Linked DNA regions of Homo sapiens. The protein of the gene in region 1 interacts with the protein of each later gene in a pairwise test. Each region holds a gene or a part of one and is shown in the gene's direction. Other genes may lie near its edges.

What was found.
Region 2: the proteins of DVL2 (region 1) and ZNF165 interact in binary tests that used the Homo sapiens proteins (3 or more experiments, as listed by UniProt).
Region 3: the proteins of DVL2 (region 1) and TRIM29 interact in binary tests that used the Homo sapiens proteins (3 or more experiments, as listed by UniProt).
Region 4: the proteins of DVL2 (region 1) and TLE5 interact in binary tests that used the Homo sapiens proteins (3 or more experiments, as listed by UniProt).

What each region holds. Positions count from the first base shown.
Region 1 is NC_000017.11:7,228,180-7,231,517, reverse strand, and holds part of DVL2 (segment polarity protein dishevelled homolog DVL-2), read left to right. Parts: intron 1-323; exon of another isoform or gene 324-637; intron 638-720; coding exon 721-790; intron 791-1,087; coding exon 1,088-1,233; intron 1,234-1,362; coding exon 1,363-1,472; intron 1,473-1,574; coding exon 1,575-1,710; intron 1,711-1,839; coding exon 1,840-1,930; exon of another isoform or gene 1,931-1,968; intron 1,969-2,070; coding exon 2,071-2,140; intron 2,141-2,243; coding exon 2,244-2,383; intron 2,384-2,472; coding exon 2,473-2,549; intron 2,550-3,338.
Region 2 is NC_000006.12:28,086,816-28,090,063, forward strand, and holds the end of ZNF165 (zinc finger protein 165), read left to right. Parts: intron 1-1,747; coding exon 1,748-2,655; 3' UTR 2,656-2,748; downstream 2,749-3,248. UniProt on the Homo sapiens protein: May be involved in transcriptional regulation.
Region 3 is NC_000011.10:120,110,786-120,114,113, reverse strand, and holds the end of TRIM29 (tripartite motif-containing protein 29), read left to right. Parts: intron 1-1,637; coding exon 1,638-1,700; 3' UTR 1,701-2,828; downstream 2,829-3,328.
Region 4 is NC_000019.10:3,059,696-3,063,765, reverse strand, and holds the start of TLE5 (TLE family member 5), read left to right. Parts: upstream 1-1,270; 5' UTR 1,271-1,565; coding exon 1,566-1,592; intron 1,593-2,508; coding exon 2,509-2,606; intron 2,607-4,070. UniProt on the Homo sapiens protein: Transcriptional corepressor. Acts as a dominant repressor towards other family members. Inhibits NF-kappa-B-regulated gene expression. May be required for the initiation and maintenance of the differentiated state.

The sequences.
Region 1 (3,338 bases):
GAAAGTATAAGAGTAGAGGCTTTGATGAGGACCAAAGCCTTTTTTGGAAGGTTTTTTTTTTTTTTTTTTTTGAGCCGCCCAGGCTGGAATGCAGTGGCGCGATCTCGACTTACTGCAACCACTGTCTCCCGGGTTCAAGCGACTCTCCCATCTCAGCCTCCTGAGTAGCTGGGATTATAGACACCCACCATCATGCCCGGCTAATTTTTGTATTTTAGTAGAGATGGGGTTTCACCATGCTGGCCAGGCTGGTCTTGAACTCCTGACCTCAGGTGATCCGCCCGCCTCAGCCTCCCAAAGTGCTGGGATTACAGGTGTGAGCCACCGTGCCTGACCTTTTTGGAAGGTTTGTAAGGAACAGGGGTGGGGTTGAGAGGAGGCCACCAGCCAGTCTCATTAGATAGGTATCTCAGGCAGCCGCATCAGCGTGCGGGATTGCTTTTGAAACTGGACTAAGAGGTTTGAGTCAGACTCAAGGAAGTCTTTGGAGCAGCACTGTGCCCCTGAGGGTGCGTTAGGGAGAGGAGAAATAAGGAAAGGGGATTGAGTTTGGAGATTTCTTAGGTGTCGGAGTGAGTTCTTTCAATGTAAGAGAAGACCTGAACAGGGCAGGAGAAAGTCAACATCCTGGAGCCAGGTGAAGATTGGGAGAAAGTTTGATGGGGGTCGGGGTGGGGATGGTTGGTCCAGCTCACTGACCTCTACCTTGTCGCTTGGCAGGGTGGTGAAGGAAGAAATTTCAGATGACAACGCCCGCCTCCCCTGCTTCAACGGAAGGGTGGTATCCTGGGTAAGAGGTTCTGACACCGAGGACCAGGCCCCCTCAGCATTGCCAAGCTCCCTCAAGCCTCAGTCTGTTTCTGTATCCTCCCCAGGCCGCGCGTTAGCAGCCCTGGCTCTTTACCTCCTGTCTGTTTGGAGAGCCGGCGAGAGGCCCTCAGCCTTCTCCTTCTGGAGTCTCTAATACTTGCTAGGTTTTTTTGCTCTTCTCCAGCTCTCTGAGACCCTTTCTCATTCTTTCACTTACTGCCACCTGTCACACCCTGACTCCCAAGTGAGCCACTGTTTATCATTTGCACCCTTCTAGCTGGTGTCCTCAGATAATCCCCAACCCGAGATGGCCCCTCCAGTCCATGAGCCTCGGGCAGAACTGGCGCCTCCAGCCCCACCTTTACCTCCTTTGCCACCCGAGAGGACCAGCGGCATTGGGGACTCAAGGCCTCCATCCTTCCAGTGAGTCCTTCAGATTCTTGACTGCAGGGGAGGGAGGTGAGGAGGGAACCCAGGCCTTTGGTAGGGGACGCCTAGGATCCGGAGCCCTGTTCTCCTGATGTGGGTTGGAAACCATCTCTGCCTGTCCAGCCCTAATGTGTCCAGCAGCCATGAGAATCTGGAGCCTGAGACAGAAACCGAGTCAGTAGTGTCACTGAGGCGGGAGCGGCCTCGCAGGAGAGACAGCAGTGAGCATGGCGGTGAGGGGCAGGCCTGGGGGCCGGGAAGGGCTGGGCCAGACCCCAGCCTTGGTGGGGTGAGCAGGGGGAAGCTTGGTTCTTGAGCTTCCTGTCCATATGTAGCTGGGGGCCACAGGACTGGTGGCCCCTCAAGGCTGGAGCGCCACCTGGCCGGATACGAGAGCTCCTCTACCCTCATGACCAGCGAGCTGGAGAGTACCAGCCTGGGGGACTCGGACGAGGAGGACACCATGAGCAGGTGTGGCTCCGCACAGCTCTCCCCAGCGCACCCAGCCCCGTCTCGTCTTCCAGTCAATCCTCTTGTTCTTTCTCTTGGCCCCATGACCACTTTGGCCTACGTTTGCTCTCCTTCCCAACCTCCTGGTAGGTTCAGCAGCTCCACGGAGCAGAGCAGTGCCTCCCGCCTCCTTAAGCGCCACCGGCGGCGAAGGAAGCAGAGGCCACCCCGCCTGGAGAGGGTGAGGGGTTCCTACAGGAAGGCTGGTGCTGGGAGAAGGTGGGGCATGGGCTTTGGTTTGGGCGGTGCCAGGACACCGGCAGCACCCCAGGGTTGACCCTGGGTTATTGAAGGGCACTCTGGCTCCTTTTCCCACCACAGACGTCATCCTTCAGCAGCGTCACAGATTCCACAATGTCTCTCAATATCATCACAGTCACGCTAAACATGGGTATGGGGAGAGCCTGTGGCTAGGGCGTGGGGAGGGCCTGGTCTCTAGGGTTCCGGGCGTCCTGTGGCAGGGGCTCCTCTTTTCACATGGCCTCTCTCCACAGAGAAGTACAACTTCCTGGGTATCTCCATTGTTGGCCAGAGCAATGAGCGGGGAGACGGAGGCATCTACATTGGCTCCATCATGAAGGGTGGGGCTGTGGCGGCCGACGGGCGCATTGAGCCAGGGGACATGCTTTTGCAGGTGTGCTGGGGTAGGGCCACTGAGCTGCCCTGCACGGGGGCCCTCAGCCTCTCCCACCGTGTCTCTGACCCACTTGCCGTCGCTTCCAGGTGAATGACATGAACTTTGAGAACATGAGCAACGATGACGCTGTGCGGGTGCTGAGGGACATTGTGCACAAGCCTGGGTGAGTTGCCAAGCAGGTTGCCGGTCCTCAGTCCTCTTTTTTTTTCTCTTTCATGTTTTGTTTTGGAATTTTAATAAGTACTAAGACAGCCGGGCGTGGTGGCTCGAGCCTGTAAACCCAGCACTTTGGGAGGCCCAGATGGGTGGATCACCTGAGGTGAGGAGTTCGAGACCAGCCTGACCAATGTGGTGAAACCGTGTCTCTACTAAAAATAGAAAAATTAAGTGGGCATGGTGGCACATGCCTGTAGTCCCAGCTAGTGAGGTGGCTGAGACAGGAGAATCACTTGAACCCTGGGGGGTGGAGGTTGCAGTGAAACGAGATCACGCCACTGCACTCCAGCCTGGGCGACAGAGCAAGACTCCGTCTCAAAAAAAAAAAAAAGTGCTAAGACATAACGTTCAAAGTACATGAAACAAATGCATGACATAGCAAATAATACTAGAGTAAATATCCATGTCACTGCCATCTAGATCATCAAATAGGAGATTGCTGATACCCTAGAACTTCCTCCTCAGATGTCCCTTCCTGCTCCCAAATGCCTCACTGCCCCAGGGGTAGTCACTCTCCTGACTTCTTTGGCCATCACCATAACAAAGAAAAGCTTTGCCTCACTGGATAGTTACCACCCTTGCACGTATCCTTGAACACTGCAGTTTCGTTTTACCTGTTTTTGGACTTTCTGTGAATGGAACTGTACAGCGTGTACTCTCTTGTCTCACTTGGCAGTATGTTTTTAAGAGTTTTCCATGTTGATGAGTCATCCACATTGTGGTGCCTTCCACCCTC
Region 2 (3,248 bases), on another chromosome or scaffold:
GAACATTTTTATGATATGACCAAATTAAAGGAAATAAAAGTGAATGAGTTGAGAAAATATCATGAAAAGAGAAAAGAAGGAAAAGAAAAAGAAATACATGGACAGAAGCAAAATATGTTCATAGAGAAGTACATATAATGATCAAGAGAAACAGATACATGATGATATACTGAGAAATAGTATATAATTCACAAGTAACATAGACCGTGATCCATATTTTTCCTGTTATGCTCTTGGTCTTATAAAGCTCTTTTACACTTTTATAGAAAGTTAGCTATAGTTCTAGAGACTACTTCCACAGAATACTCATCTCTGTTCTAAAACTCATCTATTTAAAAGATTCATAGATGCAGTATCACTTAAGGTGTGAATTGTCCCTATAGTAAACCCAAGAATAACTTACCGTTAATTTTTTGGTTTGTTTGTTTTGTTTTGTTTTGTTTTTCCTGACACAGAGTCTTGCTCTGTCACCTAGGCTGGAGTGCAGTGGCGTGATCTCAGCTCACTGCAACCTCCACCTCCTGGGTTCAAGCAATTATCCTGCCTCAGCCTCCCGAGTAGCTGAGATTACATGTGCCTGCCACCATGCCCGGCTAATTTTTGTATTTTTAGTAGAGACGGGGTTTCACCATGTTGGCCAGGCTGGTCTCAAACTCCTGACTTCGTGATCCGCCCGCCTTGGCCTCCCAGAGTGCTGGGATTACAGACATGAGCCACGGAGCCTGGCCACAATTAATTTTTAATAAATTTCTACATATTCTGCCTTCAGTTTTGTTCTGGAAACATCTCCATCTGTCGTATATAAAATTGTAAATTTCCCTCACCCCATGAACAGCACTCCCTAACCCTCTTTCCTGCCCTAGCGTATTGTAGACAAAGGACAGCTTATAATAAAGAAGGGCGGTTCAATTCCAGCACAGTATAGAGTGGGATTTGTGAAGACTGGATCATAAATGGATCTTGGAAACCAGGCTTGGGAATTTAGACTTGAACAAAAAAAGAGAGAGAGAGATTCAAGGTTTTTGAGTAGGGTATGAAAGGATGGCAGTGTTTAATGACCATTAGTCTAGTAAGGATCTTTAGGATAACTAGGAAGAAGAAAAGTGCAGAGTCAAAACAGCAAGGAGGCAGTTAAAGTCTAGATAGGAAATGGTAAGGTTCGAGACTATGGCGATGGTAGCAGAAATATAAAGGAAGGGATTTATACAAGGGACACTTAGTGGACAGTGATGACAGAATTTAGAAGACTGATTAACCATGGAATATGAGGAAGAAATAGACAATAGGTGGATGGAAGTTTTCTCACACATACTTCACAGTCACTTATAGCTTTACTTTTCTCTCTTGTGTTCTCATCTGCTTTCTTTGAGGTAGTGCCTCCATTTTCCCTCTAGAAATGTATCATAGACCCAAGGTTCCCAAGATCTGCTGCAGTCAACATTGTAGAGTTCCTTCTCCGTACTCTATCTCCCCCTATCTCTTGAGTTCTTGCTGATGACAATCCTCCCAATCTTTTCTAATATATATGCTTCACGTCTGATTCCTCTCTCTGCCAACCACTGCAGGCATTACTTGCTCTTACCAATGTTTCTTTCATTCCTATCATCCTCTTTCATTCTATCATTCCTCTCATGTGAAAGGTCATATATTAAAGTGGGCATATCAATATGTAACTATCTTGAGCATGCTATAAAATTTTCTTTTCGTGCAGCAAACAGGTAATATTTCCCTTTCTTTTTTATTTTAGATAATGAGAGTGAAAACAGTAGATCCATGCCAAAGCTGGAAATTTTTGAAAAAATTGAATCACAGAGAATTATATCTGGAAGAATCTCAGGATACATATCAGAAGCATCTGGTGAGTCTCAAGACATCTGTAAGTCTGCAGGCAGGGTAAAGAGACAATGGGAAAAAGAATCAGGGGAGTCTCAGAGACTCTCGTCTGCCCAGGATGAAGGTTTTGGTAAAATCCTCACCCACAAAAATACAGTCAGAGGTGAAATAATAAGCCACGATGGATGTGAGAGGAGATTAAATCTGAACTCAAATGAATTCACACACCAGAAATCTTGTAAACATGGTACCTGTGACCAGAGCTTCAAATGGAACTCAGATTTTATTAACCATCAAATAATTTATGCTGGAGAAAAAAATCACCAATATGGAAAATCTTTCAAGAGCCCAAAACTTGCTAAACATGCAGCAGTTTTCAGTGGAGATAAAACTCATCAGTGTAATGAATGTGGGAAAGCTTTCAGGCACAGCTCAAAACTTGCTAGGCATCAGAGAATCCACACTGGAGAGAGATGCTATGAATGTAATGAATGTGGGAAAAGCTTTGCAGAGAGCTCAGATCTTACTAGACATCGGCGAATTCACACTGGGGAAAGACCCTTTGGTTGCAAAGAATGTGGGAGAGCATTCAACCTGAACTCACATCTTATCAGGCATCAGAGAATTCACACCAGAGAGAAACCCTACGAGTGTAGTGAATGTGGGAAAACCTTCCGAGTGAGCTCACATCTTATTCGACACTTTAGAATTCACACTGGAGAAAAACCCTATGAATGCAGTGAGTGTGGAAGAGCCTTCAGTCAGAGCTCAAACCTTAGTCAACACCAGAGAATTCACATGAGGGAAAACCTATTAATGTAAGGAACTTAAATTTGTAAGTAAATGCTGAGGAAATGGCACAATATGAAAAATATTAAATAAAAAATAAATATTGGGCAAGATGGAAGACTGAAAGACCAGTTTCTGGTGTTCAATCTGTGTGTATGTGCTTTCTGTGAGACTGGGGATGTACCCCTTCTTTCATTGACTACTAAAGTCAAACCAAAAGAGCTACATTTAGGGGGGCTAATAGGGTAGTCTATGGCAGTGCAATGTAGAGAAATAGAGACTGTCTGGGGAAATAATCATGATTACAGTGTGGGAAGAAAAGGAAGATTTAGGTAAAGAGACTGATAATCAGTCCTAGTTTATTTTCCTAGTTAGTTTAGCACAAGAAGAGGTCAGCTAAACCCAGGAGTGAAATAGGTTGCACAGTGCACTGCAGAACAGTGTTTTCAGAGCATCCCTTTAAAAACTGAAGACCACAAAACTAAGATGCTCATGTTAAGTTAGAGAGTAATGTCAAATGAGGACATATGTAATGGTGGCATTCCTATATGAGGCCAAAATCTGTGTCCAGAGGTCATACCAGGAAGTAAAAAACCAGAAGAACACCCCAGGGAAGAGGCCAGAAT
Region 3 (3,328 bases), on another chromosome or scaffold:
GAGAAGCTGAGCTGGGAATCAATTTCCCTGGGGGCTGGCCCCAGCTGTCTCATTGACTTGCTGTGTGACTTTGCATGAGGAAAAATGATTCCTTTGTGCCTCAGTTTTCCCATCCATAATTAGGATGATTTTGCAGCTCTTCCACCTGCTGTATGTGCTGTGACCTCAAGCCAGGGAGGGGATGGGAGGGTGAAGGTAGCATTTTGCCCTGATGCCCACCTACCACTCCAGGCTTTTAACCAGACAATGCCATTCATTGACCTGCAACCCATATTATTGACCCAATCTTCCTCAAAGAAAGGCTTCAGCCATTTCCAAATCTGTTCACTTTGCCCTATGAATTGCTTGGGGTCCAGGCTGGCCCCTGGGGGTCAGGAGACCTGGTCCAGGCTCTGCTTTGCCAGTAAGTAGCTGTTCTTACCCCTCCCTGGGTCTCAGTTTCTTCCTTTGTTTAATAGGTGGTTTAAGCAAGGTCTGAGCATCCCTCAAGTCCTGCTGTGGACCACACAAAGGCAAGGAGCTGACCAGGAGGTGTCAGTTCCCTGAGAGACAGGGCCAAAGGCAGTGTACCCTTGAGGTGTGTGTGTGAGGGGCAAATGATGTCTCCTGTATTGGGATCTGCAGGGCATGGGAGTGGGCTCAGTCTCTGACCCAGCTCAGGGACAAATCCTCTTCCTGAGACCCCCGGGGGCTGATGGTGCTTGCGTGGGTGAGCAGCAGCTAAGCTGTGCTCTTCCACTCCATCCTGGAGGGCTGCCTCCTCAGGGCCCTGATGAAGTTATCTGGGCAGGGTGGGGCATGCTGATTTCATGAAATTACTGGGAGATACAATACATGGAGAAGGCTGGGAGAGCTGTCACTGGGCTCTCTCTCCAGAGATGCTCCCTGTACCAATGGCTGGGGGAAGAGGAACAGGACGAGAGAGGCAAAGGGCTGTGGGGAGCCTGGGACCGTGTTGGACTGGGGCAGTTCTTTACCCTCTCTGCACCCTTTCTGTAAGGGAAATTTATGCAGAGAGAGGCAAAGAAAATCCTGGAAGCCCTCACCATAAGAGAAGTGATGCCGAGAACTGGCAGCTGGGGGTGTGGGTTTTGGAGGCAGCCTGCTGGGGCTTGGATTCTGGCTCCTTGCTTACCAGCTGAGTGACCTTGGGCAAGTTGCCTAGCCTCTCTGTGCCTTGGTTTGCTCAACTATAAATTGAATATGATAATAGTAATCTATTTAATTGGGTGGTTGTAAAAATTAAATGAGTGCATCCACATACAGCCCTCGACACAGTGCTGTGAAGTTCTGTGGAGTAGAAAGTGCTATATAAATAGTAGCTGTGGTGGCGCTGGAGGAACCTCCTTGAGCTGTGGAGAGAAATTTCGACCAGTGTAATGCGGGGGCTGAGGTTCAAGCTCACCCACTAACTATGGGAATGGACTCCAATTAGGATTCCAATCTGGAGATCCTGACATTAGGGACCAGCCCCTGATCACAGGGTAGGTAAATCTTGCAGATCAGGCCAAAAAGGCCCCTAGAATTGTCGGGTCTTGGATCACTGCTGCCTCCTGAGGCAGGTTAGGGTAGGGTGGGTCTAGCTAGCAGGCTCATCTGTCGTCTGGCCTCGCTGACCACTCTTGTTTCCCCCACAGTCTCACTACCGGCCATTCTACGTCAACAAAGGCAACGGGATTGGGTCCAACGAAGCCCCATGAGCTCCTGGCGGAAGGAACGAGGCGCCACACCCCTGCTCTTCCTCCTGACCCTGCTGCTCTTGCCTTCTAAGCTACTGTGCTTGTCTGGGTGGGAGGGAGCCTGGTCCTGCACCTGCCCTCTGCAGCCCTCTGCCAGCCTCTTGGGGGCAGTTCCGGCCTCTCCGACTTCCCCACTGGCCACACTCCATTCAGACTCCTTTCCTGCCTTGTGACCTCAGATGGTCACCATCATTCCTGTGCTCAGAGGCCAACCCATCACAGGGGTGAGATAGGTTGGGGCCTGCCCTAACCCGCCAGCCTCCTCCTCTCGGGCTGGATCTGGGGGCTAGCAGTGAGTACCCGCATGGTATCAGCCTGCCTCTCCCGCCCACGCCCTGCTGTCTCCAGGCCTATAGACGTTTCTCTCCAAGGCCCTATCCCCCAATGTTGTCAGCAGATGCCTGGACAGCACAGCCACCCATCTCCCATTCACATGGCCCACCTCCTGCTTCCCAGAGGACTGGCCCTACGTGCTCTCTCTCGTCCTACCTATCAATGCCCAGCATGGCAGAACCTGCAGCCCTTGGCCACTGCAGATGGAAACCTCTCAGTGTCTTGACATCACCCTACCCAGGCGGTGGGTCTCCACCACAGCCACTTTGAGTCTGTGGTCCCTGGAGGGTGGCTTCTCCTGACTGGCAGGATGACCTTAGCCAAGATATTCCTCTGTTCCCTCTGCTGAGATAAAGAATTCCCTTAACATGATATAATCCACCCATGCAAATAGCTACTGGCCCAGCTACCATTTACCATTTGCCTACAGAATTTCATTCAGTCTACACTTTGGCATTCTCTCTGGCGATGGAGTGTGGCTGGGCTGACCGCAAAAGGTGCCTTACACACTGCCCCCACCCTCAGCCGTTGCCCCATCAGAGGCTGCCTCCTCCTTCTGATTACCCCCCATGTTGCATATCAGGGTGCTCAAGGATTGGAGAGGAGACAAAACCAGGAGCAGCACAGTGGGGACATCTCCCGTCTCAACAGCCCCAGGCCTATGGGGGCTCTGGAAGGATGGGCCAGCTTGCAGGGGTTGGGGAGGGAGACATCCAGCTTGGGCTTTCCCCTTTGGAATAAACCATTGGTCTGTCACTTCTCTTGTATTGAATGACCATTTCCCTGAGGGTCCCCAGAGGAACAGGCTGCAGTTCTTCTGAATGCACTTTTTCCCTCTGATGAAGGCACGGTCATCTTCCTGCTCTCCTCTCAGAAACGTGGCTCCTTTGAAACTCCCTTGACCTCCCTCACCCTGTCTGGGACACAGGGGGTGCAGTGCAGGAACCTGGGCCTCAGGGAGGCACGCCTTGGCTAACAATGAACACAGGGAGAATGACAGTGGGGTGTGGGCCTGGGGATATGCTCAATACCTTCTGCCATGCTCAGACCTTCTGGCCGGCCCACCCTAGAGTTCCCAGGGGGAGAAGGGCCCAGAAGTGGCTGGGAGCCAAGCACTCTGGTGCTCAGACGCAGGCTGGAGTGGAAGTCCACTGGAGGCTTCAGACCTGAGGGCCTTCTCAGTGCACAGAGGGCCTTCTGGGAAGGAGAGCTCCCCTTTGAGGCTGGCAGGAGGGTCAGGCTCCTGAAGACAGCAT
Region 4 (4,070 bases), on another chromosome or scaffold:
ACTAAAACTCCAAAATTAGCGGGGCGTGGTGGCACGTGCCTGTAATCCAGCTACTCGGGAGGCTGAGGCAGGAATCACTTGAACCCAGGATGCGGTGAGCTGAGATTGTGCCATTGTACTCCAGCCTGGGCAACAAGAGCGAAACTCCATCTCAAAAAACAAACCAACCAACCACCAGGTCCCGTCCCTCCTCCTCCCACAGCCTTCCAGGGCTCCTACCTCACTCAGAGCAAAATCCCAAGTCCTCCCCAAGACCCACAAGTCCTTGCTGGACTGGCCTGCTTCACCAGCTACAGAGTTAGCAGGGCCCAGTGCAAAAGAAAACTCAAAGGCCCCTTGTTCAAAAATGATTAGAAATCTCAAAATGCAGCAGTAAATATTAACCCAAGCACAAGCCCTGCTGTGGGGTGGGGGGGCCCTGGACAAAAGCACGAAGCCCCCGGCCCTGCCTCCCTCCGGCCTTCCTGACCTCCCCCCGGGCACTCTGCTGCCAGGCACAGTCCTGCCCCAGGGCCTTTGCACCTGTTGGTCCTGCCTCTGACTACCTCTGTACCCCATCCCCCTGTTCTCCCTCCTTCTTCAGGTCGCTTTAGGGGTGGAGGAAGCCGTCTCTGATCCTCCCTCCCACCTCTTTAACTTTGCACCTTCCTACCCTGCCATTCTCCCGGCTGGTTTTTCTGCAGAACTGTCCCCACCATCTGACCTGCCAGGAATTCAGCTTGTGAATTTGTCTCTGTCTGTCTCCAGGCACCACCACCAGGGCAGGGACCCACCCCCGCCCCGCCCCACCCCAGGGCCCTGGAGCAGCGGGGCCTGGCACACAGTAGGCGTTCTATAAATGTGTCACAAGAATGGCTTCCCTCAGGAAGGCGGCATTACCGCTGCCTTTCTGCAGAAAAGGAAACTAAGGCTCAGCAAGAACCACCGCCCAGCCAGAGCCAAGGTCACAGAGCACGTCCGTGGCACGCGTCCAGGTCGTGCCACAGCAGGGCCGGCGGCTTCGACGCGGGCAGCCGGGTCCCTTTTCTTTGACAGATGGGGAAACCGAGGCCCGGCCGGCTGCCGGGTAGGAGAGGGTGGCGGGGGCCGCTGCCCGGGGCGGGGGCGGGCCGGGCCCAAGGTCACCGCGGCGGGCGGGCCACGGGGAGGCGGGCCGGCGTGGGGATCCGCAGGCCTCCCCGGGCGCGCGCGTCCCCCCCCTCGGCGGCGCGCACGGGGCACGGGCGGCGGCAGGTGGAGCCGAAGCCTCCGCAGCAGCCGAGCCGCGGCCACTGCCGGCGTCGCCGCCATTAGACAATAGCGGTGGGGCCGGGGAGCGGGGAGGCGGGCGGCGGGGAGGGGCGGGGAGGGGCGCCGGGCGCGCAGGAAGCGGGGCCCGGGGCGCGCCGGGGCCGGGCGCGCGGGGAGGGGGCGCAGGAAGCGGGCGAGGCCGGGCGCGGGAGGCGGCGGCGGCCCCGGGAGCTGCCGATCGGCGCCGGGACAAAGGCGCGGCCGCCCGGCGCCCCCAGCAGCCCGAGCCGGGGCGCACAGCCGGGGCGCAGCCCGCGCCCCCCGCCGCGATTGACATGATGTTTCCACAAAGCAGGCATTCGGTAAGCGGGGCCCGTCCGGCCGGCGCCCCCACCCCGGATCCGGGCCCTACGCCCCCGACCCCCGGCTCCCGGCCCCGCGCCCCCCAACCCCCAGGCCCGGTGCCTCCGGCCCGGCGCCCCCCCCAACTCCCCGGCCCTGTCTTCCCTCTCCAGCTCCCAGCCCGGCGCGACCCCCCTCCCCTCCTGCCGCCGGCCCCCGGACACCCCCCCTCCAGTTCCCGATCCACCCCAGCTTCCGGGCCCCGAGCCCCCCCGCCGCAGCTCCCGGCTTGGCGCCCCCCCCCCCCAACCCGCCGGGACAGTCAGGGCCTCGGACGGCCTTGGCCTCGGGCCTGGGGCGCTCCGGAAGCCCCGCGAGGCACCTCTAGCCCGGGGATCCTTTGGGGGCCTGTGGTGGGGGGGGTGATCCGAGGCGCACCCCTCCCGGAAGAGCGTGTCCCCGAGGAAGGGCGCTGGGAATCTGGGGTTGGGCCCCCCCGGAAGATTTCGAGCACCGAGAGAGAGACCCCTCCCCCAAGAGGACTTTGCAGGGAGGAATCGCTGCCCCCCAACTTGGGGAGGGGGCTCCCTAGGGCGCGTTTCTACCCCCCTCGGATGTGCACTCCCTCCCGGCGCTTTGGAGGGCGGTAGAGGGCGCACCCTGCCCCCCATCTAGGGCGGGCCTTAAAACGCACCCCCACTGCCTGGGGGTGGCGGGGGACGGGGCGGCTCCGGGCGCACCCACCCGCTCGGCTTCCCCCGGGAGAGGCGGGGGGCAGGAAGCGCGGGTGGGGTCGCGCCAGGGGCCGTAAACACGGGCCCAGGAAGTGGGGCAGGAGGGGGGGCGCCGCAGCTGCGCGGCCGCTCCCTCCTAGCCGGCCCTTGAGGGGGGTCCAGCCCACGCCTGGGCCTGACCCGGGCCGCCCCATCCCTACAGGGCTCCTCGCACCTACCCCAGCAACTCAAATTCACCACCTCGGACTCCTGCGACCGCATCAAAGACGAATTTCAGCTACTGCAAGCTCAGTACCACAGGTGAGCTGGGGGACTGGGGGTCCCTGCGTCCCGAGAATGTGAGTCCCCCCATTTCTTCTGCGCAGATGGCAAGGCTGAGGCCTGGAGATTGGGAAAATAATATATGCTAGACTCTGACCTAATCACTTGACAAATACTGAATTCATTTATTTTAAACAGCCCCATTTTGTAGAGGAGAAAACCGAGGCACAAAAATAGTTAAATAATTTGCCCAAAGATTCAGCTGTGTGGCTTCAGAGCCCCTCCCTCCTCCCCAATACCCCCAAGTCCCCCATTGGATAAAAGACCTTCCAACAATTGGAGTTACGGCACGGACTCGCCATCCCTCAACCCCCAAAACAGAAACATTCTGCAGCCTGGTCATCTCTCTCTTTGCCCAGTTTTGGAGAAAGGGTTCCCAGCACCCGTCAGATTCTCCAAGGTGCTGCTTCTTTCAGAAATCTGGCGTTTCTGAAGAGCTTGCCACGCTGCGGTATCTAAGGGGAAGGAACTATTTAGTCCTCTTACACTTAAAGAAACTTAAGCCCAGGCCAGGCGTGGTGGCTCATGCCTGTAATCCCAGCACTTTGGGAGGCCGAGGAAGGTGGATCACTTGAGGTCAGGAGTTCGAGACCAGCCTGGCCAACATGGTGAAACCCCGTCTCTACCAAAAATACATAGTTAGCTGGGTGTGGTGGCGGGCGCCTGTAATCCCAGCTACTCGGGTGGCTGAGGCAGGAAACTTGCTTGAACCCGTGAGGCGGAGGTTGCAGTGAGCAGAGATGGAGCCACTGCTCTCCAGCCTGGGTAACAGGGAGACTCTGTCTCAAAAAAAAAAAAAAAAAAAAAAAAGAAAGAAAAAAAGAAACTTAAGCCCAGAGATGTTATGATGTTATTTCCTCGGGGGTGTCCATAGCATTGAGGAAGTGGCAAGGCTGAGGTTTGCACCAGGTCTCTCTCCTGGTTTAAGGATATAGGTTCTCGCCTGCCCTGCTCTGGAGGGGCACGCCGGGCCTGGGAATCTGGAGAAAGTCAGGCTATGCTCAAACCCCCGTTTGGCCTTGGGGCCCTCTCTAAACTGAAGCGTGCCCACCCCAGAAGTGTTCCTGGAAGGATCCTGGATTTCCTCCAAGTAGAAAGGGGAATCTCGATTTTGTTGTTGCTGCTGCAAATATCCCACCTTTTTGGGTACTCCCTGTGTGCTCAAGACCGTTCGTGCCTCCTCGTGCTTCATCCTTCCTGTCGTCCGACTGTCGTACCCATTCTCAAGCTGGGCAAACTGAGACACTGACAGTCGAAGGTGCTGGAGTCAGCTTTCCATGCAGGCCCCAGAAGCTTTTGTGCGGGTTCCTCGATATGAAGGGTTGGATACCGCCTGGTGAGCCCCGGGGCTGACCTGATTCCACAGGGAAGGGATCAGATGGCGGTCACAGTGCTGTGTGACCTCTGCTAAGCCGGAAGCCCTCTCTGAGCTTTGGGGTCTCC